4 linked regions of the Homo sapiens genome follow. The protein of the gene in region 3 purifies or fractionates together with the protein of the main gene of each other region. This does not show direct contact. Each region holds a gene or a part of one and is shown on either strand. Other genes may lie near its edges. The genes, in order: PXMP2, ZMPSTE24, SLC18A1 and SFXN5.

Evidence for each region.
Region 1: the proteins of SLC18A1 (region 3) and PXMP2 purify together in Homo sapiens (affinity purification with mass spectrometry; 3 studies listed by BioGRID and IntAct, with this or other methods). This does not show direct contact.
Region 2: the proteins of SLC18A1 (region 3) and ZMPSTE24 purify together in Homo sapiens (affinity purification with mass spectrometry; 2 studies listed by BioGRID and IntAct, with this or other methods). This does not show direct contact.
Region 4: the proteins of SLC18A1 (region 3) and SFXN5 purify together in Homo sapiens (affinity purification with mass spectrometry; 4 studies listed by BioGRID and IntAct, with this or other methods). This does not show direct contact.

Annotation. Positions count from the first base shown.
Region 1 is NC_000012.12:132,697,584-132,704,608, reverse strand, and holds part of PXMP2 (peroxisomal membrane protein 2), read right to left. Parts: intron 3,360-7,025; coding exon 3,240-3,359; intron 1-3,239. UniProt on the Homo sapiens protein: Seems to be involved in pore-forming activity and may contribute to the unspecific permeability of the peroxisomal membrane.
Region 2 is NC_000001.11:40,253,826-40,261,236, forward strand, and holds the start of ZMPSTE24 (CAAX prenyl protease 1 homolog), read left to right. Parts: upstream 1-4,410; 5' UTR 4,411-4,446; coding exon 4,447-4,569; intron 4,570-7,013; coding exon 7,014-7,160; intron 7,161-7,411. UniProt on the Homo sapiens protein: Transmembrane metalloprotease whose catalytic activity is critical for processing lamin A/LMNA on the inner nuclear membrane and clearing clogged translocons on the endoplasmic reticulum.
Region 3 is NC_000008.11:20,166,121-20,173,145, reverse strand, and holds part of SLC18A1 (chromaffin granule amine transporter), read left to right. Parts: intron 1-17; coding exon 18-110; intron 111-1,651; coding exon 1,652-1,741; intron 1,742-1,999; coding exon 2,000-2,043; intron 2,044-7,025.
Region 4 is NC_000002.12:72,998,708-73,005,732, reverse strand, and holds part of SFXN5 (sideroflexin-5), read left to right. Parts: intron 1-2; exon of another isoform or gene 3-1,342; intron 1,343-4,154; coding exon 4,155-4,208; intron 4,209-5,245; coding exon 5,246-5,302; intron 5,303-6,718; coding exon 6,719-6,784; intron 6,785-7,025. UniProt on the Homo sapiens protein: Mitochondrial amino-acid transporter. Transports citrate. Does not act as a serine transporter: not able to mediate transport of serine into mitochondria.

The sequences.
Region 1 (7,025 bases), on a different chromosome or scaffold from region 3:
GAACAGTCCAACAGGCCACGGTCAGCGGGAGGCCGTGGCCAGTTATCCAGCCTCAGTCACCCAGTTCATTTGTTTACCCGTTTGTTGGTCAGCTGGTCCAACCACCCATCCATTACTGCATTTACTGAGCCTTTGTTCGTACCAAACGCTGTGCTAGGCCCCTAGCAGAGAGGAGTGGAGAAGAAAAACGGTCCCCTAGTTACAGTGTTCACAGGCTACAGCGGCCCAGGAATCCCAAAGCCAAGTCACTCTCCTTTTGCCCCCTTCACCGCACACCTTAGCTCCTGGTTCAGCCTCTCTCACTCCAGGACCAGCCATCATGCAGGTGGCTGCACCCTCCTCAGGGGACACAGCTGACGAACAGCGGAGGGGCCCCAGACCTTCCCTCCTCTAACCCATCACCATCCCACTGCCCTGCTTTGGTGACTCAGCAGCTTCACCCTTCCCCAGAATCCTCTGGCCCAGTGCTGAGTCTCTCCCTGGCACGTGGTGCTATGAAAGTAGCAGCCCATGTGTCTGGTTAATCGCCGCGTCTCCGAGTCTAGCAGCATGGCGCACAGTCACTGCTCAGGAAACGCTTGCTGAATGAATGCTGCTTCCGCATACACCTGCACCCACCTAGGATGGCGACTCTGCCCCCACGCTACTCAGAGGCGCGGCTTCCCAGCTCTCCCCTCTTCCATCCCAGATCCTCCGTGTTCCCGGCCAGTCTGTCTTCTCAGTTGTCTCTGCTTCCTTCTCTAAATTCCCGAGAACCAGTGGCCCATGGCTGTAGCTTCCTTAGCCTACTGTTCTTCAGTCACACTCCCTGGAAAATCCTTTATCCTTCCTGCCTTCTCACTTCCCCAGATGCTGACCACAGCTGGACAAGCCCCAGCCCCCTCTGCCCAGAGGTCTTTGTCTCTGCAGTCAGCATGCTCTCCCATCCTCCACATGGCCAAACTTGCCCCTCCTGTATCCCCTTAAAATGCCCGCCTGACTTCCTCTGCCCTCAGTCCCAGCCCCTGGCCCTCCAGAGAGGCACGTGGGGGCTTGAGGCAGGATGTCCCACTCTCCTGTCCGCTCAGCTGTCACTTTCTCTCTCCTCTCTCATCACAGAGGGCAGGGCCTCTGTCCAAGCACCACTGTGAGTGTGCTGGGGGCTCACATCCACCCTGACTCCTTAGGGGACCCCGCAGAGCTGCTCTTTCTGGACATGCGTGTTTGCCCATCCCACAAGCAGCTTCACGTCTGCACCCACCATGGCCGCATCTCTGAGTGTCAGAACCCCCTCTGCCACCCAGCCTTCTTCCATCACTTCTCACCTTCTCTCAAACTTTTTAAAATTCATTTTTATAAAATAGAGATGGGGTCTCACTATGTTGCCCAGACTGGTCTCAAACTCCTGGCTTTGAGTGATCCTTCTGCCTCAGCCTCTCAAAGTTCTGGGATTACAGGCATGAGCCACCATGCCTGGCCCCCACAGACTTTGAGAGCATGTTCTAGACTTGTGATTTTTAAAATAATTCCCACCCACTCTTCAAGGCAATCTGGCTTCAGCCCCATAGAGCTGAAATTGCTCTGGGAAGGGCCACTGTTAAAGCCAAAGGAAATTTTTTTATTTTGCTTTAACTCCTGGCAACTTTGGCTAAGGGTGAACTGCCTCTTTGTCCTGTCTGTGTGCACCCCTGGTTTCCTGCTGCTTCTTGGTGTGTTTGTGGTGTGTGCAGTGTGCACACACTGGGCCGCCTCCCTCCTCTCCCTCGGGGGTCACCCTGGTCCTTTCCTCCCTCCTGGGCAGGGCTCAGAGCCGGTGCTAATGCAGGAAGGCCCTCTGCAGCTGAGGTCCAGCCACTGCAGGCCTGTTCAGGTCCTCCCTAGCAGCAGCCTGGGCTGGGACGGCACCCACCTTTCCCAGAAGGGCCACCTGCCCTGTGCCTGGACTGTTTGCACCAACAATGCAGGCTCCACACAGCTGCTGTCTTTCTAGGGGTCTGGAGCTTTGGGGCAGCAGGCAGAGATGCCCGCCCAGAGTACCAGTAAAAAACCCTGATGGGCGGCATACCTTCTGGGGGAGGGAAGCACGTGGCCCCTGCAGGCTCTGCCAGGCCTCCTCCTGTAGCATCTGGGGGTATCCTGCCATGCTGCAGGGGGTGCTGCACCCCATCCTCCCAGTGTGGGAGTGGTCCTGGGGACCCTGGCTGTGCATAAAGACAGTTGATCCCAGTGGCAGAGCCTGGAGCTCCAGCCTCCACACCACCAGCCCAGCCCCAATCTGACACCTTTGACTCAGCCCCCACAGCAGCTCCTTCATGCACAGGATAGCGGAAAGGCTCAGCTTACCCAGAAGGCCTTCACTCTGCACCTGGATGGGCCCACCCCTTGCCCAGGTGTGGCTGCCATGGCTGCAGGTGAGGCAGCTCTTCCAGGCCAGCGGCAGGACCCATGGCCGCACAGTGCCTGCCTTCAGGCTCAGCTGTAATTCATGAGCCCAGGGACCACGAATGCTTTGTTTCTTTTTAACATTTTATTTATTTTTTGAGACAGGGTCTTACTCTGTTGCCCAGGCTAGAGTGCAGTGGCACAATCTCAGCTCACTCCAACCTCCGTCTCCCGGATTCAAGTGATTCTTGTGCCTCAGCCACCTGAGTAGCTGGGACTACAGGCACCTGCCACCATGCCTGGCTAATTTTTGTATTTTTAGTAGAGATGGGGTTTCGCTATGTTGGCCAGGCTGGTCTCGAACTCCTGGCTTCAAGTGATTTGCCCACCTCAGCCTTCCATAGTGATGGGATTACAGGTGTGAGCTACTGTGACGGCCTTCTTTTTCTAAGTATAACTAGAGTTTATTTGGGCCAAGTTTGAGGACTGCAACCCAGGAGCATAGATTCAAGTTGCCTGCATGTACATTCCTGGGACTGGGAATGTTTCAAAGGCTAGAAAACTCATAGGCATCCCTGGCATGGGGGCTTTTAATGAGAATTTGCTGAACGAACAGAAGAGGCAAAGACGACCACTCGGGACACCCTTCTCTGTTGCTTCCTGAATCCCGAACTAGCAATGATTCAGGGTCATGGGCAAAATCCAAGGGTAGTTGAGGAGTCTAGACACGGATGAAACTAAGTCTAGCGGAAAACTACCAAAGAAAGAAGAGAAGAGAAAAGAAGAGGGGAGGGAGGGGGGGAGGAAAGAGGAAGGAAGGAAGGAAGGAAAAGGCTGACAAAGTAATGTTAGCAGAGGCTGAGCCCCGTGGCCCTCACCTTCAGAGGGACGTAGTTGATGTTGATGAACTGTAGTGGCGTCCACACCCGCCAGTTCATCCTCAGCGCCGGCCAGAAGCCCCCCCTCATCTTGGCGGCGAAGGCTGAGGCGTCTTTCCCCTGCAAAGGAGGGAAGGCGGGTGGTGAACAGTCTCACTGCCCATCAGAACTGAATTCCGGGCACCCAGACCCTATCGTGATGGTTTTTAAACTGCTATTGGATTTTGTTCTGTGTGTACGCAGACAGCACACATGTGTACTCAGCACTGCGGCTCTAAGGAGCCAACCAGCAAGATGGAAAATGATCAGTGAGATGCCAGACAGCAGCCTGCTCATGCTGGCAGTGATGTCTGTCCTGGCCCAAAACTCCTTGCGGACAACTGGAGGAGGTGACTCCCAAGGCTGGCCCTGGGCACCAGAACTGCTACTCAGAGCTACGCTGTCAATTCCTCCCAAATAACCTCCAAAGTCGATGTCTTTCCAATCAAAACTTGTTAGGAGTTATGAAAAAAAAAAAAAAAGGACTCCAGTAAGTTCATTCTAAATGTCAGCTGGTGGATTCAAGACCTGAACCCAAGACCTGACACCATAAAGATCCTAGGAGCAATTCCTCTGGACGTCCGCCAAGACAAAGAATTTGTGACTAAGTGCTCAAAAGCAAATACAGCAAAACCAAAAACAGACAAACAGGACTTCATTAAACAAAAAAGCTTCTGCACAGCAAAAGAAACAATCAACAGACAGTCTACAGCCTGGGAAAAAATATATGCATATTATGCATCCTACAAAGGACTGTTATCCAGAATCTGTGAGGAACTTACACAACTCAACAAGAAAGAAATGAATAACCTCATTAAAAAAGTGGGCAACGGATACAAACATTTTTCAAAAGAAGAAAAACAAGTGGCCAAGAAACATATGAAAAAATGTTCAACATCACTAATCATCAGAGAAATGCAAATTAAAACCACAAGGAGATACCACCTCACGCGAGTCAGAATGGCTATTATTAAAAAGTCAAGTGGCCAGGCGCGGTGGCTCATGACCGTAATTTAAGCACTTTGGGAGGCTGAGGTGGGCGGATCACGAGGTCAGCAGTTTGAGACCAGCCTGACCAACATGGGAAAACCCTGTCTCTACCAAAAAAAAAAAATACAAAAATTAGTTGGGCATGGTGGCGTGTGCCTGTAATCCCAGCTACTCAGGAGGCTGAGGCAGGAGAATCACTTGAACCCGGGAGGCGGAGGTTGCGGTGAGCCGAGATCGTGCCACTGCACTCCAGCCTGGCTGACACAGTGAAACTCTGCCTCAAAAAAAAAAAAAAAAAGGTCAAAAAACAATAGATGCTGGCAAGAATGTGGAGAAAAGTGAACACTTACACACTGCTGGTGGGAATGCAAATTAGTACAGCCCTTCTGGAAAACAGTATGGAAATTTCTCAAAGACCTGAAAATAGAACCACCATTCGATCCAGCAATCCCACTACTGGGCCTCTACCCAAAGGAAAAGGAATCATATCAAACAATCCCTGCCCTCGTGTGTTTATCACAGCGCTATCCACAACAGCAAACACGTGGAATCAACCTAAACGTCCCCCAACAGAGGACTGGATAAAGAAAAAGTGCCATAAATACACCACGGAACACTACTCTGCTATAAAAAAAAGAATGAACTCGGCCGCGCACGGTGGCTCACGCCTGTAATCTCAGCACTTTGGGAGGCTGAGGCAGGAAAATCGTTGAACCTGGGGGGCGGAGGTTGCAGTGAGATGAGATTGCGCCACTACACTCCAGCCTGGATGAAAGAGCGAGACTCTGTGTCAAAAAAAAAAAAAAAAAAAAAAGCATGTCTTTTGCAGTGACGTCGATTGAACCGGGGGCCATTATCCCAAGTGAAACAACTCACCAATGGAAAGTCAAACACTGCATGTTCTCACTTTTTTTTTCCAAGACAGGGTCTCGCCATCTCACTCTGTTGCCCATGCTGGCTGGAGTGCAGTGGCGTGATGTCGGCTCACTTGGCCTCAACCTCCTGACATCAAGCCTCCGTCTCAGCCTCCTGAGTAGCTGGGACTACAGCCATGTGCCACCACAACCCTTTGATTTTTAATTTTTTTGTAGAGAAGGGGTCTCACTCTGTTGCCCAGGCTGGTCTCGACATCCTGGGTTCAAGTGACCTTCCTGCCTCAGCCGATGTTCTCACTCATAAGTGGTGGCTAAACAGTGGGTATACATGGACCAACAGAGGGAAATAACAGACACCAGAGACTTGAAAAGGTGGCGGGGAGAAGAGGGTTGAAAATCACCACTGACTACTTGGGTGATGGGAAGTAAAAGCTCAGACTTCACCACAGCACAGTCACATAAGAAATCTGCACTCGTACCCTCTAAATATATACAAACTAAAAAAAATTTTTAAAGAAATGCTTAAATATTTTCTTGTTTAAAGTAAGGGGGAGAAGCTGGGTACAGTGGCTCATGCCTGTAATGCCAAGGTGGGCATATCACTTGAGGCCAGGAGTTCAAGACCAGCCTGGCCAACACAGAGGAACCCCATTGCTACTAAAAATACAAAAATTAGCCAGGCGTGGTGGTGGGCGCCTGTTGTCCCAGCTACTCTGGAGGCTGAGACATGAAAATCACTTGAACCCGAGAGGCGGAGGTTGCAGTGAGCCGATATTGTGCCACCACACTCCAGCCTGGGCGAGAGTGAGACTCCATCTCAAAAAAAAGAAAATAATCCAGCAAAAGAACAAAGAGTGCAGATAATTGCCTGTACAGATGGAAATGAGAATATTTCAAAATACTGGGGATTGCCCAATAAATGGTAATGAGAAAATTTGCTATGTAAGTGGAAAAATCAACACAGAAGTCTATCTCCTACTGTACACAAGTAAAACCATAAGAATACCGGAGGAAAGCAGAGGAGAATATTTCTATTATCTTCCTGTAAGGAAAGGCATGAAGGAGAATAATGTCATGTTTGAATACATGAACCTTTATAACTTCTGTATGGAGAAGTGAATGGTTAAAACAAATTTACTTTCAGGACAGAAGGTGACGCCAGGTGCAGTGGCTCACACCTGTAATCCTAGCACTTTGAGAGACCGAGGCGGGTGGATCACGAGGTCAGGAGTTCAATACCAACCTGGCCAAGATGGTGAAACCCCGTCTCTACTAAAAACACAAAACAATTAGCCGGGCATGGTGGCGGGCACCTGCAATCCCAGCTATTTGGGAGGCTGAGGCAGAGAATTGCTTGAACCCAAGAGGCGAAGGTTGCAGTGAGCTGAGATCACGCACTACACTCCAGCCTGGGCAACAGTGTGAGACTCCGTCTCAAAAAAAAAAAAAAAAAGGTGACACGTCTCAGACACACAGCACAACCTGGCTGGTGCTCCTAGAGATGGTGAGGATTTGAAGGTGCTCGTGAACGGGGGAGGTGGGACAGTCAGAACAGACACACCTGCTGAGTGCAGGTGAACACGCCTCCCATGCGTTGGATTCTGACTGGGATTATGCCGGTAGGTTAACCTCCAGGCCCGGAACTCTTCTGTGTTATCAGTAGGGGTCTCAAACTTCTTGTGCCACAGATCTCTTTGGCAGTTTAGTGAAGCCTGTGGACCCCCTTCTCAGAATGTTTTGTAATCTATAAAATAAAATACGGCTGGGCGCAGTGGCTCACGCTTGTAATCCCAGCACTTTGGGAGGCCAAGGCAGGCGGATCACGAGGTCAGGAGTTCAAGACAAGCCTGGCCAACATGGTGAAACCCCATCTCTACTAAAA
Region 2 (7,411 bases), on a different chromosome or scaffold from region 3:
TGCAGTGGCGCAATCTTGTCTCGCTGCAACTTCAGCCTCCCGGGTTCATGCCATTCTCCTGCCTCAGCCTCCCAAGTAGCTGGGACTACAGGCACCCGCCACCACGCCTGGCTAATTTTTTGTATTTTTAGTAGAGACAGGGTTTCACCGTGTTAGCCAGGATGGTCTCGATCTCCTGACCTCATGATCCACCCGCCTCGGCCTCCCAAAGTGCTGGAATTACAGCCGTGAGCCACCGCGCCCGGCCAAAAAAGAAGAGTTTTGAAGAGTAGACTGATGTCAGGTAATGAAGGACCTCGAAGGTCATACCATATATACCATATATAGGTTGGGCTTTATACTATCATAAATGGACCATTACAGGGTTTTTGTTTTTGTTCTTTTTTAACAGGGAGTAACACAGAATTAGTAGCCTATATGAGAGACAGAACGTATGAGCTAGAAAGTAGAATGAGCTAGATGCAAAAGAAATAACAGCTGCTCTTGTAAGGGTACCCAGGCTGGAGTGCAGTGGTGTGATCTCCGCTCACTGCAACCTCCGCCTTCCGGGTTCAAGCGATTCTCCTGCCTCAGCCTCCAGATTATACGCGTCCACCACCATGCCTGGTTTTTTGTCTTTTGTTTTTTTTTTTGTATTTTTAGTAGAGATGGGGTTTCGCCATGTTGGCCAGGCTGGTTTCAAACTCCTGGCCTCAAGTGATCCACCCACCTCGGCCTCCCAAAATGCTAGGATTACGGGCGTAAGCCACTGCGCCCAGCCAAGGGGGATCATTCTTTTCTTGAGGCCAGAGCACTTATGGCCAGAGTTTCAATTAAGGGACCTTGAATGCTTGGTAAGCAGAGAATCAAGGCAAGATAGGGAAAAAGCTTGAGAGCAACTCTATGATTTAGGTTAGACAGGGTAGATGGACTACCCTACAGCAATGTCTATCACTCTAGGGATAATAATCTTTATCTTTCAAATTCAGTCATTTTATTTATTTTTATAGAGATGAAGTCTCACTGTGTTGCCTAGGCTGGTCTCGAACTCCTGCACTCAAGCAATTATCCCACCTTGGCCTCCCAAAGAACTGAGATTACAGGTGTGAGCCAGCACACCCTGCCAGTCTTTCTCCTTTAGCAAAATCCTGCCAACAGCCTGTTTTGAGGTTCCCATTTTTAGACTCCACACAGGCCAGCCCTTCTATTAGTACTGTCTTTCTGAAAAGAGAAACAAGTGATTATTCACTTTCCATAATTCACTAGTTCTCCACTGCCACCACATTAGTCTGCACTACCATCTCTCACCTGGATTCTTTTTTCTTTTTTTCTGATATCCTTGGCAACTGCTAAATCACCTGGATTCTTGAAATGGCCTCCTAACTGCACTCCCTCCTTCCATTCCCCATTAAATTTATTCTCCACGTTGTAATGAGAAGGATTGTCTGCTCAAAACTCTGCAATGCTCTGCTCAAAATCCTGCAATGGCTTATTCTTTCATTCTAAGTAAAAGTCTTTTAACTAAAAGACTGCATGATGGCATGGATCTGCACTCCCCCTCTTCCTTACTCTTTCCACAGCCTCTTGCCATTCCTCAGATATGATAAGCATTGGCCAATCTCAGGGCCTTTGCACTTGCTCTTCACTCTGACTGGCAATTTCCTCAGATATCCACACAGCTTGTTCTCTTACTTTTTTTGGGGGACTCAAATGCCAGTTAATCTGAGAAGGCTTCCTTGACCAACTTATGTAAAGCAGCATCCCTCACACCAACATGCTGTATTGCCTTTTTGCTGCTTTTTCTTCATAGCACTTATCACCACTTCCACTTTTACTATTAAATATTTGCTTATTATTTATCAAACACTGCATCCACCCCAGCTAAGAATGTAAGCTCCAGGAGAGGGGCTTTGGTTCACTGCTATATCCCTGGCACCTGGAAATGCGTCTGGCATTTCGCAGACATTCAGTATTTATTGAATGAATGAATTCCAGTCAGTCTTGGCTTTTTGACACCTCGGCCTCCTACTCTCCTATCTCTTCAGACACATGGTGACAGATCAATGCTATGATGCCCCTCTCCCAAGCAGTAGCTAACCTTTATTGGGCACTCAGGGCCATCTACATTGCTAGGAGCTTTACATGAATTTTCTCATTTGATCCTAACAGTATGAGAAAGTAAGTACATACTATGTTATTCTCATTTTACTGATGAGGATCTGATGCACAGATTAAAGAACGTGCTAATACATGGTGCGGCCGTGGCTGGCAATCAAGCAGCTTGACTCTAAACCTGTGCCCTTAGCCACAAAGCTTGGGTGGTAGAAGCTCCTGTGAGGCTTTGGACTCACAGACAGCTGAAGTCAAGAGTGAAGAGGGCATAGCAATGATGGCCTGAGGGAGAGAAAATTTTGAAAAAGTGTTTACCCCTTATATATTTAAGTTGGTATCTAACTGGTTCCATCATAAATTCAAATAGTTGCAATGGATGTAAATTCTTGCAAATTGTAAATACTGACATTTTAAGATAAAACTGTTAAATCACTCTTTATAATGTATCCAAGAGAATCTACATAACAACTGAATAACCACCATTATGCATTAAAACATACACTAATGAGCTCTTCAACATTGTTCTTTTATTATCTCTAACATATTTAGATTGTACTCTAACAAAAAATGTTATTCAAATATAGTACTTTGATGTTTGAACAACCTTTTCTTGATCACTTCTTCGCAATAAAAATATGACATATGTAGTAAACCTTAAAAAATTTCGTGTAACTTTATGGCTCTACGCTGGAATTCTTCTGAAGTGAGTAATCATCACAATCATCTTTAGTATATAATGGATCAAAATGACACGATTGCAAATATTGATAACACACAGTTATAAAAGGTGAAATTCTATTGGGAACACATCTCTTAGTGAGATAGATGGGGCTGACCCACCAATTAATTCATTTATCTGGATGAATAGTTCCTACTGGTAGATTAACAGGGTTCATTTTCAATTCTGTTGTTTTCACAGATACAAGTGCTGAGAAATGGTTTTACATAAATAGGTGAGAATGCTAGTAGTTTTGTTGTAAGCATGTCAATCAATCGTTTGGTTTCTTTCCGAGTTGCATGCCAAAAACCAAATAGTGTTCCTTCATCAGCTGACAATTCATGGGCCACCATTAATTTTGTTGAAAGCAAAGAACTGGAAACCATCTGACTTGAAAAGAATTTGTTATCCTGTTATTAGAGTCATTCACTTTCTCTAGTGACTTTTAATTATACTAATTACTCTCAGAGGCATTTAGGCAGGGTTGAGAAATTCAAGATATTAATTTCAACACATCTTTAGCATCACAATATCACAGTAATTTAAATATATTTTAGTTGTAGCTATTTAGCTCACTTTATTGTAAATAATAATTATGCTAATTAGCAACGATAGTATGTTTAACCAATTAATCATCAGATTAACTTTCGGTCAGAATAATGGACTTCAATTTTTAAGTCAAAGCAATGTACAGGCGTCCCAGTCACCATATTTCACTTCTGAATTCCAAGAGAGAAATGGCGTTGCGCCTTACTGACGCAAATATGTACCTAGATAAAGTAAGACGCTTTCATTTCAGGTATGTCTAACCCACGCTATCCTTGCTTTGTTCCAGGGCACTCTCGCAGGGAAAACGCCGCCTCTGACTACACTTGGGGTGGTTAAGACGAGATCTTCAAATGAAAATTCTCAACGCTACCGTCCACTCTCTCATACGCTTGAATTCCGAACACCCCAATACTGGCCAAAAGACTCCATTTCTCATGCTTGGTCTTGCTTTTGAGGTAGCTCTAACTCAGAGGCACGATTTTTAGAGCCTGGGAAGTCGGCTGCTGTTCAGTCCTTCCTAGCCTCCTCAGGCGGGAGCCGCGGCCCACTCAGTCAGTTGCGGCCCACTCAGTCAGTTCCGGCCCCAGCCCCGACTACCTGTCGCCTTGTTGGGGGAAGGAAGGCAGATACCGCAGCCCAGTCAGGGTAAGCCGCTGACCCAGAGGATGGAACTGCGGCTCTGGAGATTAGAAAGAGGAGGACTTCGCCGCGTTCACTAGCCCAGGAGGAAAGCCAGAACCCTAGGCCGGAACCCAGCGTCAAGACGTGGGGGAAGAATGTTGATGCAACACAGCTCAGCCGGGCCCGGAACTCGGCGTTTGGGTCCCCGCCCTCTTTGGGCCGGAAGTGAGGAAGGTGGGGCTGGGGCTTTTCCTGTAGAAACTAGGAGGGACTAGGGAGAGTCTGCAAGGGGAAGAGTGTGTCTGTGACACTGCCAGCAGCGCGCAGAGGGAGGGATGGGGGCGGGTATCGGCGTAGGGGCCCTCGGAAAGAACGGATATTGCTGTGACACCGCGGGGACGCTCTGAAGGGACGAGTGTCGGTGTGGCACCGGTGCACGCTGAAGGAGCCGGCGGAACCGGGTGGCCATGGGGATGTGGGCATCGCTGGACGCTTTGTGGGAGATGCCGGCCGAGAAGCGTATCTTCGGGGCCGTGCTGCTCTTTTCCTGGACAGTGTATCTTTGGGAGACCTTCCTAGCACAGCGGCAGGTGAGCCTAGACAGGGTCCAACCTGACCCCCATACCCGGCCAGCCCTGGAGTAGCCTTGGCTTCGACCCTGAGACTCTTGATTGCTTCGGTCCCCGCGCCAGTCTCGTCTTTGTGGTCCCTGCTGAGTCTCGTAACTTGGCCCGATGGCGGACTGTGGCTTTGAGGAGGGTCTTGGTGCGTCAAGGAAGTTTTCTGTAACGTTATCATGGGACCCAATCCCTTTAGGGCCTGGAGGAAGGCTTGGGCTCTTGTGCCCTCCCTGCAGCTTCCTTGGGATCCTTGGGCCCAGACTTGGCCTCCTTTATCTTTGGAATAAGCCTTTAAAAGGATTTAGACACCCAACTTCCTCATGACATTTATGTAATCATGCCTAACCATAGGATTTTGCAGTCCTTCCAAGAACTTGCACTCTTGTTTCTCCTTAAAGTGCATATATTGTTTCTGCTTGAAAAAACAAACAAACAAACAAAAAACTTATCGGGCCCGGCGTGGTGTCTCATGCCTGTAATCCCAGCACTTTGGGAGGCCGAGGCGGGCGGATCACCTGGGGTCAGGAGTTCGAGACCAGCCTGACCAACGTGGCGAAAACCCGTCTCTACTAAAAATAGAAAAATTAGCCGGGTGTGGTGGCGCGCACCTGTAGTCCCAGCTACTTGGGAGGCTGAGGCAGGAGAATCATTTGAACCCAGTAGGCGGAGGTTGCAGTGAGCTGAGATTGTGCCACTGCACTCCAGCCTGGGCGACAAGAGTGAAACTCAATCTCAAAATAAATAAATAAATGAAATTAAATGAAATATATTTCTCGTTTTTCATAAAATCAACATTATTTTAGTTTAAATATTAAAATGGTAAAATAAAAAGTGAAAGTTAACAATTTACCTGAGATAACCATGGTTTAGAGATCTGAACTTTTATTTATTTATTTTTAATCTTTATTTATTTATTTAATTTTAGAGTCTAGCTCTGTCACCAGGCTGGAGTACAGTGGCGTTATCTCGGCTCACTGCAAGAAACTAGGAGGGACGAGGGAGAGTCTGCAAGGGGAAGAGTGTGTCTGTGACACTGCCAGCAGCGCGCAGAGGGAGGGATGTTCAAATGATTCTCCTGCCTCAGCATCCCGAGTAGCTAGGATTACAGGCACGTGCCACCACGCCCAGCTAATTTTAGTATTTTTAGTAGAGACGGGGTTTCACCATCTTGGCCAGGATAGAATATTTATTGTATTTAGAGACAGGGGCTCACTCTGCCACCCAGACTGGAGCACAGTAGCATCATCATAGCTCAAGGCAGCCTCGAACTCGTGGGCTCAAACGACCCCTCCACCTCCACCTCAGCCTTCTGAGTTGCTAGGACCACAGGTGCGGATCACTGTGCCTGGCTAATTGTTTGATTTTTTTGTAGAGATGTTGCCCGGGGTGGTCTGGAGTTCCTGGACTCAAGTCATCTTGCCGCCTCCACCTCCCAAAGGGCTGGGATTACAGGCATGAGCCACCGTGCTCGATCTCCCCTCAGCTTTTATTGGCACACAACAATATATAGGGAAAGCATGTTGTAGTGGCCCATTATTTTGTTTGGTATCCATTCTCTGTATTACATTTCCTGGACTGAAATTACCCTTACCTTTTATAATTTAGTATAATGAGATAGTTGATCTTTCTCCTTTTTTTTTTTTTTTTTTTTTTTTAAGGAGATAGATTCTCTGTCACCCAGGGTGTAGTGCTGTGGCACAATATGGGCTTACTGCAACCTCTGCCTCCCAGGCTCAAGTGATCCTCCCACCTCAGCCCCCCAAATAGCTGGGACCACAGGTGCATACCACCACACTCTGCTAATTTTTGTATTTTTTGTAGAGACGGGATTTCACCACATTGCTCAGGCCAGTCTTGAACTCCTGGGCTCAAGGAATCCTTCTGCCCCTGTCTTCCAAACTGCTGGGATTACAGGCGTGACCCACCGTGCCCGGCTGAAAATTGGTCTTTTCTCACAGACCTGATATGTTTCCATCTGGTGATCCTCAAGTTTCTGGCATTTAGGACCAAATTTAATGAGCAGCCTCAGTATCTGTTCATACTCACAGTTAGCATGTGTGCTTCTCCTTTGCATGAATTTGTTTTCCGTATTATAGGAGGTATGTAATACCCAGAATGAGTAGTACATGTAACAAAGTTGTGATGTTAACAGCTTTGGTTTACATATACAAACTGAAGTGTGATGACAACCCTGATTATAGTTTTACCAGTCAGGTCACCTCAGGTTCTCTTGTTCTGCTTTTATTTTCCTGCATCAGTCGTTTCATGTACTTGATCAAGTGCAATATTTGTGTAGGTATAAAGCAAATTCAACAGATATAAGTGGCAAGCTATAAACCATTCGATGTTTGATCATAAATGACTATTGTAATAAACAACTATTTCACTAAAGTGTTTTCTTTAAAATATTTCAGAGAAGGATATATAAAACAACAACTCATGTACCACCGGAGTTAGGACAGATCATGGATTCTGAAACATTTGAGAAATCTCGACTCTATCAACTGGATAAAAGCACTTTCAGCTTCTGGTCAGGACTCTATTCAGAGACTGAAGGCACTGTGAGTAATTTACTTCTTGGAGAGACAGTCTGTCTGGTTGTTTTCATTTTCATATTTTTGTAACACAAAAGAGGGTACCACACTTACAAGTCCCAGAATGCTTTCTTAACCTTTGTTATTGATAGTAACGGCTGTGGAGCAAAAAAGACAGAAACATAACTGCTTAGTCAGTTGAAAACTATAGAATATGGGAACTATTACCCTGAAGCCAGGTAGGAAAAAGATCCTCTTCCATTAGGATCCAGCTGAGA
Region 3 (7,025 bases):
TGTAACTCTCTGCGCAGGTCTTGGAATGCTGGCCAGTGTCTACACTGATGACCATGAGAGAGGACGAGCCATGGGAACTGCTCTGGGGGGCCTGGCCTTGGGGTTGCTGGGTAAGTGGCACCAGCTGGAGCTCTGGGTTCGGGAGGGTGGGACTCTAGGAAGCAGGTGTTCCCGAGGTGTAGAAGACGAGTATTTTCCTTCCCTTGTTGGCCTCATCCTATTTCAACTCCTTTAGAAATATCACTGAGAAAAGGTTAAATTTCCTTCTCCTTAAGAAGCTGGGAAACACATAAACGTCGGAGAAAGGTCCGGAAGCCCAGCCTGTTGGAGGAAGTGAGCCTCCCCGATTTAGAGGCCACTGCTTCGCCTCGGTTCCCATGCACACAGCACCAGAGCATGGCTGCTGCCAGATGCTCTGCTAAATCTGTTACACGCATAATCTCTTTTATTCCTCACCACCAGGAATGAAAGGAGGAATGATTTTCCCCATTATAGAGATGAAAATAAGAATGGCGAAAACACCATCCAACATCACACAGCTAGGAAACGCCACAGCCAGGATACAGACTCCGATTTTCTGGGCTTGGAAACCCAAGCCCCAAACGATAAAACTACCCTTTCTTTGAGGCTCCTCCCTCATACAACTTAATTGACAAGCTACATGCTTTCACTTATTACATGCCAAGCACAGTGCCAGTACTGTAGGGTGGGAAGCCCCAGGCATAGTTCCTGCCCTCTAGGAGCTTACAAGCTCATCGAAAACAAAACACCTGAAATTTCTTCCCCGGCCTATGCCCCACCCTCTAGCCCCATGGGAAGCAGAGGAAACAGAATCCCTGTTATTTGCTAGTATCCATCAACCCAAATGCCCAAGCTAAACCCTGTGCATCTTGAAATCCTTTATCATGTCCCAAATGAATAAGCTCCCAAATGAACAAGCTTGTTAGATCCTCAACAGCCACTCCTGGCTCCTTGTCACTTCTGGGTTAGAATCTGGCAGCATCCTCCCTCTTGTGTACTCCCTCCTTCCACCACGATGCTGCCTGAACAATCTTCCTGAGCCCAGAGCAGGTGATGTTTCTCACCTGATGTTTCTCCATAGGCCGCAAGGCCAAGTACATGACTCATCTGCATATACAAGGTTCCTGCATATGCAAGGCTCTACTTTTCTCCTCGCAAATATTCATACTCTGCTAACACCCGCTTTCTTCTTTTTCTTCTCCAACTACACACTCTTTTCTGACACCTCTGTGTTCTTCACACAAGCTTCTTCCCCTCCAGATACTCTACACTTGGCAAAGCCCTCGTGGCTGCCTGAAATTCCTGAGACATTGACTGTGCTTTCATTGCATGCAACATTTTACTGTCAAACTTTCACCATGCTTTAATTATCTGTGTCCCTCCCTACACACACACACACATACATACACACACGCGCGCGCACACACACACACACACACACACTTCCTCCACTAGAAAGTGGGCTTGATGGGGACAGGGATCATGTCTCCATCTCTGAATTCCCAGAGCCTCAGGTGGAGCTTAGCCCCTAGCAGGCCTTCTGCAAATGCTCACGGGGTAAATATGGATAATTCTCACTGCAAAGGACTCACCCTCACCTCTGGAATCTGTGTCTCCTATGCCTCTCCAGTGGGAGCTCCCTTTGGAAGTGTAATGTACGAGTTTGTTGGGAAGTCTGCACCCTTCCTCATCCTGGCCTTCCTGGCACTACTGGATGGAGGTAAGTCACCATCAGAGCCTCCAGCAGGTGACAGCCCAGGTCAGGTTGGGAATGCATTATGTTGTAGTGTCAGTCTTCACTAAGAATGGGCGGTTTGGACATGTTTTGATGGATCAAGGACTGCCCCGTTGTAGAAAAGAAAGAAGAAACTCAGGGAGTTAAATTTATGCATAATAGGGTGGTAGCACTACAGCTGTTATTGGAGCCCCCAGCTAATCAGTAGACACGCTGAACTGTCTCACCTTCTTTGTTTCTTAGCACTCCAGCTTTGCATCCTACAGCCTTCCAAAGTCTCTCCTGAGGTAAGCAGACACAAAGCTCCATTTCTAACAGTTATACAGGATGGCTGAATGCAGGAACCCAGGCATGCCTGCCAAACCATAAGAAGAAAAGTGAAGAGGAATAGGGTCAGCGAAAGTGAGAACTGTGTTTGGATTCCAGGATAGGGTTACGTTTCAGGTAGTGTGGGGGATAGTGACGTATTTGGCTTGATGTTGGACAAAGATGGTGGAAGAACCTTGTGCATAATCAAAGAAGCCATAGAGAATCTATCTATCTATCTATCTATATATTCGACACATATATGGGGTATGTATATATATATTCATGTATATCTGGAGATCTCCATATATATATATATATGTGCACACACACATGTAATTATAGCTAGGAGATAATGACATTGGGGACTGAGTATTTGGAGCTGTAACATCATCTCAGAGATGAAGGCTGTGGGGGCCACCTAGACAACATCTTCTGCAATAAAAGACATCCTGTGTGAATATCCCTAACTGTCATTCTGTCACAGTTAATAAATATCAGAGTTGGTACTTGTTTGACTCTAAGCCAAAAACAGCTCTGGAAAATCCATATCCCACCACGAAGGAAAAAAAGTAAGAAAGTGCATCAAGTGTAAAAATGTTTGATCTAAAGGCCTTGACTTTGCATTCCACAGCTTGTCAAGGTATTCCGGAAGTCATGACACTAACACCTCATCATTCTTCAGGGCTTTTCACGCACCAGGAGCTCAGCTTAGTGCGCCATCTATGCTGCATCTTACACATTCCATGAAATAAGTACAATTTTTAGCCTCACTCTACAGATAATGAAATCGAGGGTGAACAGAGAAGCATCTGAAAGAATTTGAAACTATGACATAATCAATACTTTTAGAGTGCCAATTCCCCCAGAGCAACTAGGAGCCTCCCGCAGTCTCCTGAGATGCTCTGCTCTTTACAGACTGGCTTTAGGAGTAGGATGTCTGGGTCCTGGAGAGGGAAGTCATAACCACCACCCATCCAGGACTCCTCAGGGCAAGGAGCACCAAATACCCTCTGCACAGGCTCCCAGGCCTGGCATATGCTTGGGCCCAGCACCCCTCCAGCCCTGGCCCAGGCGTAGGGACACTCATCCAGGTGGTTCAGCCACTGTTTATTATTAACTGTGCAGCAGTGGTGAATTACTCAGCAAGTAAATCCAGCTTGAGATTCCAGGAAAGTGAGGCACCCATAAATATCTACTTTTTTGAGACGGAGTCTTGCTCTGTCACCCAGGCTGGAGTACAGTGGGGCGATCTCGGCTCACTGCAACCTCTGCCTCCTAGGTTCAAATGATTCTCCTGTGTCAGCCTCCCAAGTAGCTGGGATTACAAGCACGCACCACCATGCCCAGCTAATTTTTATGTTTTTAGTAGAGACAGGATTTCACCATGTTGGCCAGGCTGGTCTCGAACTCCTGAGCTCAAGTGATCCATCCGCCTCAGCCTCCCAAAGTGCTGGGATTGTAGGCATGAGCCACCGCACCCAGCCCATTCTCTCTCTTTCTAACAAATATACATTATTATTATTATTACTAATGTTTTGAGCCAGTTGACAGTAGATTGATTGTATCGTTCCCTTACCCCTTGATACTTTAGAGCATTTTCCCTAAGAACAGGATTTTTTTTTATGTAATGTCAATGGAGCTATCAAATTCAGGAAATTTAACATGGATATAATACTTTAGTCTAATTTGCCGTGCCTACTCTGATTGTGTCAATTATTCCGATAATGTCTTCCATGGAAGTCTTTTTTTCTCTAATGCAAAGCCCAGTCCATGACTGTGTAAGACATTTATGCATCACACCTCTCTAGCCTCTTTTAATCTGGAAAAGTTCTCAGCCTTTATCTTTCATGACATTGACATTTGTGACAATTATCTATAGGGTATTCCTAAATTTGGTTTGTCTGATGTTTCTTCATGATACCGTAGCCTTCTGAGTTTCATGTCTGGAGGTATTTAATGCCCGTCGCCTCTCAGTGGTGATGTCCATTTTGATCACTGGGTCAAGGTGTTGTCTGGGTCTCTTGTGTAGTAATTACTTCTTCACCTTGTAACTAATATATAACATGTGGGAGATGTTGTAAAGTCATATAAATCTCCTACTCCTCCTTAAATTTCCTTTCTGCCTAGATTTGTTATCCATTGATGATTCTTGACTGACCCAATCTTTACTATAATGTTTACAAAATACTGGTTTTTCTAGTTCACCAATTCATCCAAATCATCAGTTGGCACTTTGCTGTAAGGAATAGCCATTCCTCCAAGGCAGGCGGATCACTTGAGACCAGGAGTTTGAGACCAGCCTGGCCAACATGGCAAAACCCTGTCTCTGCTAAAAGTACAAAAAAATTAGCTGGGCATGGTGGTGCACACCGTAATCCCAGCTACTCAGGAGGCTGAGGCAATAGAATCCCTTGAACCTAGGAGGCGGAGGTTGCAGTAAGCCACTGCACTCCAGCCTGGGTGACAAAGTAAGACTCTGTCTCAAAAAAAATACTCTAAAAAACAAAAAAGCAATAGCCATTCCTTTCTTACTCTCTTTATATGTATATATTTATAAATATTTATACCAAATAGGTATATAATAATTTTATGTACATGTGATTATGTTCACAAAAAACTTAAAAAACATTTATTTATCTGATATTATCAGTGTAGAATCATGGAGTCCTATTTTTGTAGTTCATCACTCTATTTACTTGTTTAATTTTTTTTTGGAGACAGGGCCTCTTTCTGTGACTGAGGCTGGAGTGTAGAGGTGTGATCATGGCTCACTGTAGCCTCCAACTCTTGGGTTCAAGTGACCCTCTTGCCTCAGCTTCTTGAGTAGCTGAGACTACACAGGCATGCCACCACACCCAGCTTAACTTTTTATAGAGACCGGGTCTGCCTGTGTTGCCCAGGCTGGCCTTGAACTCCTGGCCTCCCGTCCTTAATTATTTTGATGCTCAAATTGTCCTAGATTTGACAAGTCAAAGCCCATTAACTTGTTGCTGTGTCATTTTAACATACCTTCATTGTTTTTTGAGTAATGTTTTACTTTTCGATACAAAAATATGTCCTACGTTCATCTTGTACTTTCCCTGCCTCAGCCCTGAATTCATTTCCCCAAGGAGCCCAGGTTCTTGTTAGTAGGGAATGGTGTTTAGAAACCAAACTATGGGGCCGGGCACGGTGGTTCACGCCTGTAATCCCAGCAGTTTGGGAGGCCGAGGCAGGCGGATCATGAGGTCAGGAGATTGAGACCATCCTGGCTAACACAGTGAAATCCCGTCTCTACTAAAAATACAAAAAAATGAGCCAGGCGTGGCGGTGGGTGCCTGTAGTCCCAGCTACTCAGGAGGCTGAGGCAGGAGAATGGCATGAACCCAGGAGGAGGAGCTTGCAGTGAGCCAAGATCATGCCACTGCACTCCAGTCTGGGCTACAGAGCAAGACTCTGTCTCAAAAAAACAAAAAAAACAAAAAAAACAAAAAACTATGGGGACTCAATGTGCTCTTTGCCATTGGGGTCACCTTGTTTCCCTGCCATCTTGATGACAGAGCTAATACACACACACAAGTTTGTACTGAGACCTCCACTTCCAGCCCAACTCCACGGGATTTTTCCCTGCTTGCCCCATTCCATACATGTATTCTTCTTTCAAAGTAAGAAATTTGTCTCCCCCTATTATACAAATAGGTGAAACACCTATTTTACAAATAGATTAAAAAATTTACTTACTTGTATAATTCTATAATACTTACCCATGCCATTATAAAAAACAAAGCTACCAAGAAATATTCAAGACTTTTCAGTTCTTTTTCCCTTAGACTTAATGAATATAGCCAAATACTGTATCTAGAAATTACCGTACTTCCATTAGTTCTTTTTTCCACCTTTAGTGTGATTATGTAATGCATGATACATTTGAAATTCATTTGCATCCATTTGTGGGGTTTTTTTTTTTTGGCATTTAGTTTTAGTTTTTTTTCTCCATTCTGGCTAATTATCTTAGTCTGTTCAAGATGCCAGAACAAAATACTACAGATTGGGTAGCTTAAACAACACATATTTATTTTCTCACGACTCTGGAGGCTGAACGTCCATGGTCAAGGTACTGTTGAGGGTTGGTTTCTGGTGAGGCCTCTCTTCCTGGCTTGCAGACAGCCACCTTCTCAGTGCGTCCTCACATGGCCTTTACTCAGTGTGCATGCACAGAGGAAGAGAGCCCTGATGTCCCTTCCTCTTTTTATAAGGAAAACAGTTTTTCAGATTAGAGCCCCCACTCTTATGACCTCATTTAACCTTAATTACCTCCCTGAAGATACTGTCTCCAAACACAGTCATATTAGGTTAGGACTTCAACATACTAATTTGACTAAGGTGGGGGGACTCCATTCAGCCCATAACACTAATATAATTTATTTTTTTAATATATAGGACATTACCACCTAAAAGTCAAAATTATTCCAAAAGGTGTACTCAGAAAGTGTCAATCCCTCCAGTCTTTCTAACCCTCCCCCTCTCCCACCCCTACCACTCATAGGTAACCAATTTTAATGCCTTCTGGTTTGTCTTTCCTGTGTCTTAGTGTTTTTTCCTCAAAATAAATCGCTTATGTGTTTTCTTATTTTTCCCTTTTCTATTATATGAAAGGCAGCACACTATGTATTCTTTTTTTTGCGTTCTCCTTTTTTTCTCAATAATATGTCCTGAAAATTACTCTACTAGTTCACAGAATCTTTCCTTATTATTTTCCACCTGGTGGTGTATATATATATATATATATATATATATATATATATATATATAGACACACACACACCCACACACAATTTTGTATGTGTACACAATAGTGTGTGCGCCATATTTTATTCCATCTCCTATGTTTAGGTAGTTTTCAGTATTTTATAGTTATAAATAGTGCTGTAATTTGCATGACTGCATGTTTATAATGTTGTCATTAATCTTTAGAGTCAAT
Region 4 (7,025 bases), on a different chromosome or scaffold from region 3:
AGAGCTCTGTTCTCTGAGGGATAAGACTTGTGTTCCCGAGATGGAGATGAGACGATGTTCAGTGGTGTAATGCTGACTATGGAGCTCAGAGAAAGAAACCAGCAAAGGCCAGGAAAGAACTACATGGGAGGAGAAGAATGGCACTGGCAACCGGCATCCAGGGAGCGCTTGCTGCAGGCTGCATGCTGAGGCGAATTTCCTCCACACCTTACTTCCTCTCATAACCATCCTGAGAGGTACTGGGATTGTCCTTCACTTAACAGGTGAAGAAACAGAGGCACAAAGAGCTCCAGTGACTTGCCTGTGGTCACATAGCTGGTAAATGCTGGCACCAGCATTTGACAACCAGAGCCTGAGCGTTAATCACTAGGTCCATGGTAGGACACCCAAAATGAAGGGGAGCAGCAAAGGTACAGACGGATGTGCAGAGAGCACAGCTGCCAGGGGGCTGGAGCGGCAGAGGGGACTTCAGCCATGTTATGAACTATAAATGGGAGCAGAGATAGGATGTGTGATTTGGCCAAGGTCCTGCAGCGCGATAGGGTGGAGGCTGGGCTAGAAATCATAGCTGTTGGCTCCTGTTTCCCTCTCCTTCCACTTTCCTTGGTACCAGCCACATTCTGGGCGCTCTCCACCCGTCTGCGTGGCCACGCCTGAATCGTTTCCCTCTTGGAAGAGGTGCAATCCACTGGCATTGAAGCTGGGTGGACTGGCTCCCTCTCTCTATCCATCTCTTTCTTCCTTTCCCCTGCCATGTTCTGGAAAGGGCAGCGGGAGGGAATGTGGGCAGGTTGCACCAGAGATATACATCTGAGAGCTGAAGGGAACATTTATTTTTAATTTAGACTTAAAAAGAAAAAAGGAAGTTATAAAATATCTGCTCTTGCTCCTGGGATTGTGCAGATGGTGCTGCGTTTTGCCTAATAGGGAATTGGGCTGGCATCCTCGTGCTTTTGGTCCCCGCCTGACTGTAAGGACCTGGAGGGCAGGATCCCTGCTTCCCTGCCTCAGCCTCACATGGCCCCCTAAGGCTCCATTTGGCCGATGCAGCTCGGTGTTCCTGTCTTCTAACCTCACCCTCTCCACACTCCCTCTGGTCTCCCAGACCTCCTCTGCAGTCAGACCAGTCTCTCTGCTGTCTCGGCTGTCCCTGCTCCTGTGTCGGCGCCCCCTCGGCTCACTCCTACCTCCGCCTTCGTTAGATAGCCGGGACACACTCACCCCTCCCTTCCTAAACTCCTGTTTGGATGTTAAAATTTATCAACTTTACACATAACCAAATACCTCATTAAACCATCTTGTCATTTTCAAGCCTCGGTGTTATAAAGGATGTCATCCTCCATTTTCTTGTCTGGTTTTTGTTTTTATTGTGGTTAAGGAGTGTGTGTGTGTGTGTGTGTGTGTGTGTGTGTGTGTGCGCGCGCACTCATTCCTCTCCTCTGGCTTTCTCCATTGGGAGCAGCAAGGAACTTGGTACGTAGAAGCAGCTCCTCATAAATGGATGCAGAGTGCTGATTGGATCTCCCCTCTCTCTGCGCTCAAGGGGATGAGCTGGAGAAGGAGTACCCTAAAATCAGAGTCCGGGCCCCCAAGCCAGGAACCAGGAGACCTGATTCTCTAGCTTGCTATGAAGCTATGGACAGATTACTGAATTTCTCTAAGCCTCAGTTGTCCCGTTTGCAAAATATCAAAAGTAATCTCTGCTTTGATCCCCAGGGTTAGTATGAGGATTATGATAAGTGAAATGCGTGGCAAAATCAAATCAGTCAATCCATCTCTTTAAGAAAGAATGAGGAGACTCATAGCAGTCAGAGGTGCCAGCATGGACTCCAGACCCATGTTAGGGTAGGAGGTTGGGATGCAAAGTGGGGATTGTCTAACAAAGTAAAAAGCTTGCTGGTCACAGAGCCATGGGCAGTGTGTATGTGTGTGGTACATAGCCCAAATACTAGTTTGGTTTGTTCTGGAAAAGACTTGATGTCACTTTTAAAAATGCTTGCCACTAAAGATAAATCAAGTGAAGATGAAAATGAGACAAAGGGAAGGTTAGGGAAGGGAAGATAAAATGAAGCCAGAAGTGAGGTTTGGGCACAGAATCCATGCAGTGTGGGTCTGTACACTTGGCAGATGGGGCTGTGGAGAGCTGGCCTGAGCTTCTGACGGTGCAAAGAGACTCAGTTGAATGGCTCAGTGTCTGCAAGGCACATGCACACCAGTTATTCAGAGGCACAGTTCCTGACCCTGAGACTGGAAAATATTTCCCCCAAGAGGATTATAAAGGGAACCCTGTGGTGTCACGGGCAGTGTCCTGGACAGCAGTTGTCTGGTAAATGCAGTGAGTGCTATTGGGCTGTATCTTACGATGTTCCTGGTGGTCCAAGTACAGTTCGAGGGGTAAGTGGGGATTCAGAGGAGAAGACAGTGTAGTCCATAAGACACCGTGTTCAGTAGACTCCAGATCAGGGGATGACGTGCTGGGCTCCAAACAGTGAACAGCCTTATTAACTTCCTCCGGTGGTAGAAGGCAGTCAGGCATGCATACGTGTACACATAGGAGCACATGTACTCTTCACCCACCCCCCTGTCCCATCCCCACCCCCGCTAGGCTCAGCTCCCTCCCTCTGGTCTGGCTTCTAACTGGGGGCCCCAACTACGAGGAGGTCCTCAGTTTCCTGGGATACTCCTTAGCAGATGGGATCCCATTACAGAAAAGACCGTCTCTGTTGACTTGACACCTACTACCCAGAATTTGGAAGTAGAATTTTAAACTGAGGTCAGCCCCTTCACTTTCATAGTTTAAGAAAGTTAGTGCCCCAAAGGGGATCATTTTCTGCCAGAGATCACATGGGGATGGAGCTGAATCTAAGACCCAGGTTCCCCTGATTCTCACTCTAATTCCCTAAGCTGCCACTGCAAAGAAAAAAAAAATCAAGTTGGGATCTCATTCTGGGGGAAAAATCTCATAATTCCTCGTTGGAGCTATGGAATAGCTTTATATTATATAATTTTATTCAAACTGATATGAGCCAATAAATATAGATTGTGTGTGTGTGTGTTAGCTGTTTTAAAACATTTTAATGTTTAAAACATGATTTACTAATGCTGCTGGGGATGTCTAGAATTTGATTTACTGCATATTATTGAGTGTTTATACTTGTTCCTTACAGAAATTCTTGCCAAAGAGCCATTTTATCTACAGGAATAATAAATAAGTCAATATGTGGATGGTTGTGCACATTTTTCCCATATGCAGTGGGACTTGGTAGATGTTACTTTGCACACAAACACTCAGAAGGTAAACTGGAGAGATGCACATGGATCCCTGAAGTCCAAGGCTTGGCCAGTGTCAAAATCAGACCATTCATCTTGACTTAAACCAAAAACACGGTCAGCAAGTCTAGGTCTTAGGTGATATTTGGGCTTTGGGAATAATGGATCTACATGTTCCCATACCTAGCCATATGTGTATATGTGTATATTTGTTCATTTCTTCATTCATTCCTTTCTTCACTCATTCAACAAATATTAGAAATCTATGTTTCATTCAGTTGCTTAAACCTGGTATAGGTTTTTGCTTCATGGAAATTCACAGATAACAGATACAAATTCCCCCAACTTGTATTTACAAAGCACTTAAGGCCTTTGAAATGATTTTTGTTTAATCCTCGCAAAAATCCTACGGGAAGGCTAGGGTGAGCAGTCAGGTAACCTGAGTGGAAACGAAGGTATTCCTTTTGTTTGCTTGTTTTTATTGCCCCCCTAATTGTGGAAATAATACATGTCTGTTGTTTAAAAGAATACAGAAATATTTAAGATTGTGCAAAAGTAATCTGCAACCCAACCTCCAGAGACATCCACACTACAGGTTTTTTCATGCTTGAAGATAATGTGTGTATGCATGTGTTTGTGTATATCGTTATATATAAAATGATTTTTCTTTAAATAAATAAGATTATGCTGTAATATAATTCTGCAACTTGGTTTTTTCCCATCACACAGCCTCTCCCTCAATGAACCTCAGTTTGTATGTACACGGCATACCACATCAGTTTGTACAGATCCAGCTCACTCATTTGTGGTAGCGTATTTTTTCTTTGCAAAAGCATAGGATGTTTCTTCTGCCTTTTTCAGCATTTCTTCTCTCTTGCTCATAGGTAGTCGGTCTTCTCTTGCCCAACCAGACACTGGCATCCACTGTCTTCTGGCAGGTAACAGTCTCGCAGCAAACAGGGCTCCTGAAGGAAGGGCCCACACAGGTGCTGGTTAAGAACTCCCTGCTGTGGTGTCTCCTGCCCCGTCCAGACCCCGTGTAGGGTCAGTCCACCCCAACACCACCCCTAGCCCAGAAGCCACTGAAGGAAAACCAGGACTTTGGCCCTGCTGAGCAGGTCTCCAGCAGCCCAGCATGTCTCAATCCACCATGTGTCACTCTAACCTTTGGACAGAGGTCATGAGGGCTGCGTGCCCCTGCCTGGAACATGCTGGCTTGTCAGTGGGGTGGCCCCCACTCTGCCCCTTGGCTGCTCATCCCAAGGCCAGTGACCCTGAGGCCCATAGCCTCATTTTGACATCAGCCTCCCCCACATCTGCTGAGGAAGCTAAATCCACCCCTAACCTGAGGTTGTGAAGTGCATCACAGACCCTGGTCCCTGCTCTTGGAGACAGTCTGGGTTGTGATGCCATGAAAACTGAGGATATCTCTGTGTTTGTGTGTGCAGAGAAAGACGGGCAGGAAGGAAAACCTGTCTGTCTTCTAGGAGAAAATGTCAGTCTTCCCTGAACTAAACTCCTGCCGGCCTCTGTGTCTGGGAACTGGAGGTGCAGGATACTGGACTGGGAGATTTTTGAAAGAATTGTAGGGCTGTCAGTCATTCTAGGCCAACTTTTGTCCAGCAGGTAATATAATAAAGATGGTGTGACAAAGGCAGTGGGGTCTGCAGGGGCAGTGAATGCCATCATTCCAAGAGAGGTGACTGTCTCAGGATCAGGTGGACTACTGGGGTGCGCAGGACCCCATTCAGGAACCGAGAGACTTCCCGAGAGGCAGGGCTTCCAGTGCTAACACCAGCACAGCCCTGGGCAAACCAGGACGGTCAGTCATGCTGACCGGCAGCATGGGCGGCACCATGTGAGCTGGAGACCGCATGCTGTGCCTTTCTGGGGATGTGTGGCCTCCTGGGGTCCAGGCCTGGCTTCCAGGGAGGTGACCACTCCTTCCCTGACTTCTCTCATCATTGCCTTTCAGTGGCTGAACCAGAGCCACAATGCCTGTGTCAACTATGCAAACCGCAATGCGACCAAGGTGAGCATCACTGCCCTCTCCCCAGTGGTGGGGTTCAGGCTAGGGAGGCCCAGTCATCCTCCCTACAGCGTGACATGCCACCATCAGTGGCTGCCTCTTGGTTAAGCATGGCCCTCCTCTAGATATCTTATTTAAAATGCCAGCCCTTCAGGTGGGTGGCCGACTCAGACATGACTCAGCTGAGGTCAGCTGCAGTTTCTGGGCCAGGAGCCCTCTGGGGAGGGGCTGTTTACATGAAGTGAAGAAGGCCCATTAAATGGGAGCAGTGCAAGGGATGAGTTCGGCTGGCTTTCAGATTCTTCTTGGGTAGCTCTTACATTTGGGTTTTGGATCATGATGGTATCAGCTACTTGGGGGCAAAATTCCCATAAAGCTTCCTCCAAAATTTCTGGAAGCTGCCTTAGCGCTCCCAGGTCCCGACTGCTGGCCACAAGCTGAAGGGCTGCTCCTGAGTGGGGAGGGTCCAGGGCTGGTAACTCCCCCCCAGAGCCCCTGCACTCCTTGGAGAGCTTGTGGTGGAGGCCCAGTCACCCTTCTGTTGTCCAGGAAGGGCTGCTGGGCCCCTGCTTTGCTGGCAAGGCCACCTCTCCCCAACTTCAATTCAAAGGCAAAGAAGGCAGGATGCATCTAAGTCCCCTTTGGGGGCCTGTCAGTTTGGGGTAGAGGAGAGTCCTAACATTTGCTCACCTTGGGGGAGAGGAGGGGAATAGGAGCTGGCCTGGGCCATAGGAATTGAGAGGCCTGATATGCTGTGGCTGCCCCCTGACATCTAAACCTCCACCCCAAGTCTCTCTCATAGGCTTCACATATGGCCATCTCTGCTTGGATGACTCCCTTTATCTTAAACCAGACACTTCTAGACCTGCAGTTGTAGCACAGGGCAAGTTCCTTAGCTTTTTCTTAATTGTCTGTGTTGGAACTTGGGGTATATTATTCTCTAGAGATATTGGGCAGCTATCATCTGTTGACATGGGAGCCCAGCTGTTCCATGGGCTGGCAAGGCCTGTGAGAGCCTTGACACTGGCATTTCCACCTAGAAAGCGCTCCAGATGCCAAATGGCCCCCTTGAAACATTTAGCCTCTAAACTGAAGACTGCTTGCCCCAGCCTTCAATGGTCCATGTTAGCCTTGCTGTTCTCCACCTCCACCCAGCACTGTCTGCCAGTGACCTTTCTAGAACAGGGCAGGAGTGAAGTGGGCCCTTCAGTATCTCCCTGGATACTGGTGATTTATATTTCTGCATTGGGAACTGAGCTGAGGGTGGCCTGATCCCTTTGAGTCCTGAGGGGCCTCTTCCTTCTACCCACTTTCCAGGCTGGTGGGCAGGATGCTTCTTGCTGGCTGGGACAGCTTACAAGGGGAAGTATGGGAGCTTTGGGCACCCAGCAGGCCTGAAATTCTGCCTCTGTTTTCCAGCCTTCACCTGCATCCAAGTTCATCCAGGGATACCTGGGAGCTGTCATCAGCGCCGTCTCCATTGCTGTGAGTACTCCCTCCCCTGCTCCTTCTTGGCTCTGCTGCTCTGGGGCCACCCCGCTCAGCATTGCAGGTGGATGCTTGTCTGAGGGCCAGGCCAGGCAAGGATTTGGGAGACAGGTTTCTGTGGGTGGAGGAGTCAGGACAGGCTTTCCAAGCCGAGAAGAGGCTCCAGTAGACAGAGCACAACCTGGTGCTCCCTGTAATGGAGAGCAGGTGGGGAGGTGAGGTTGTGCCTGGGGGCACT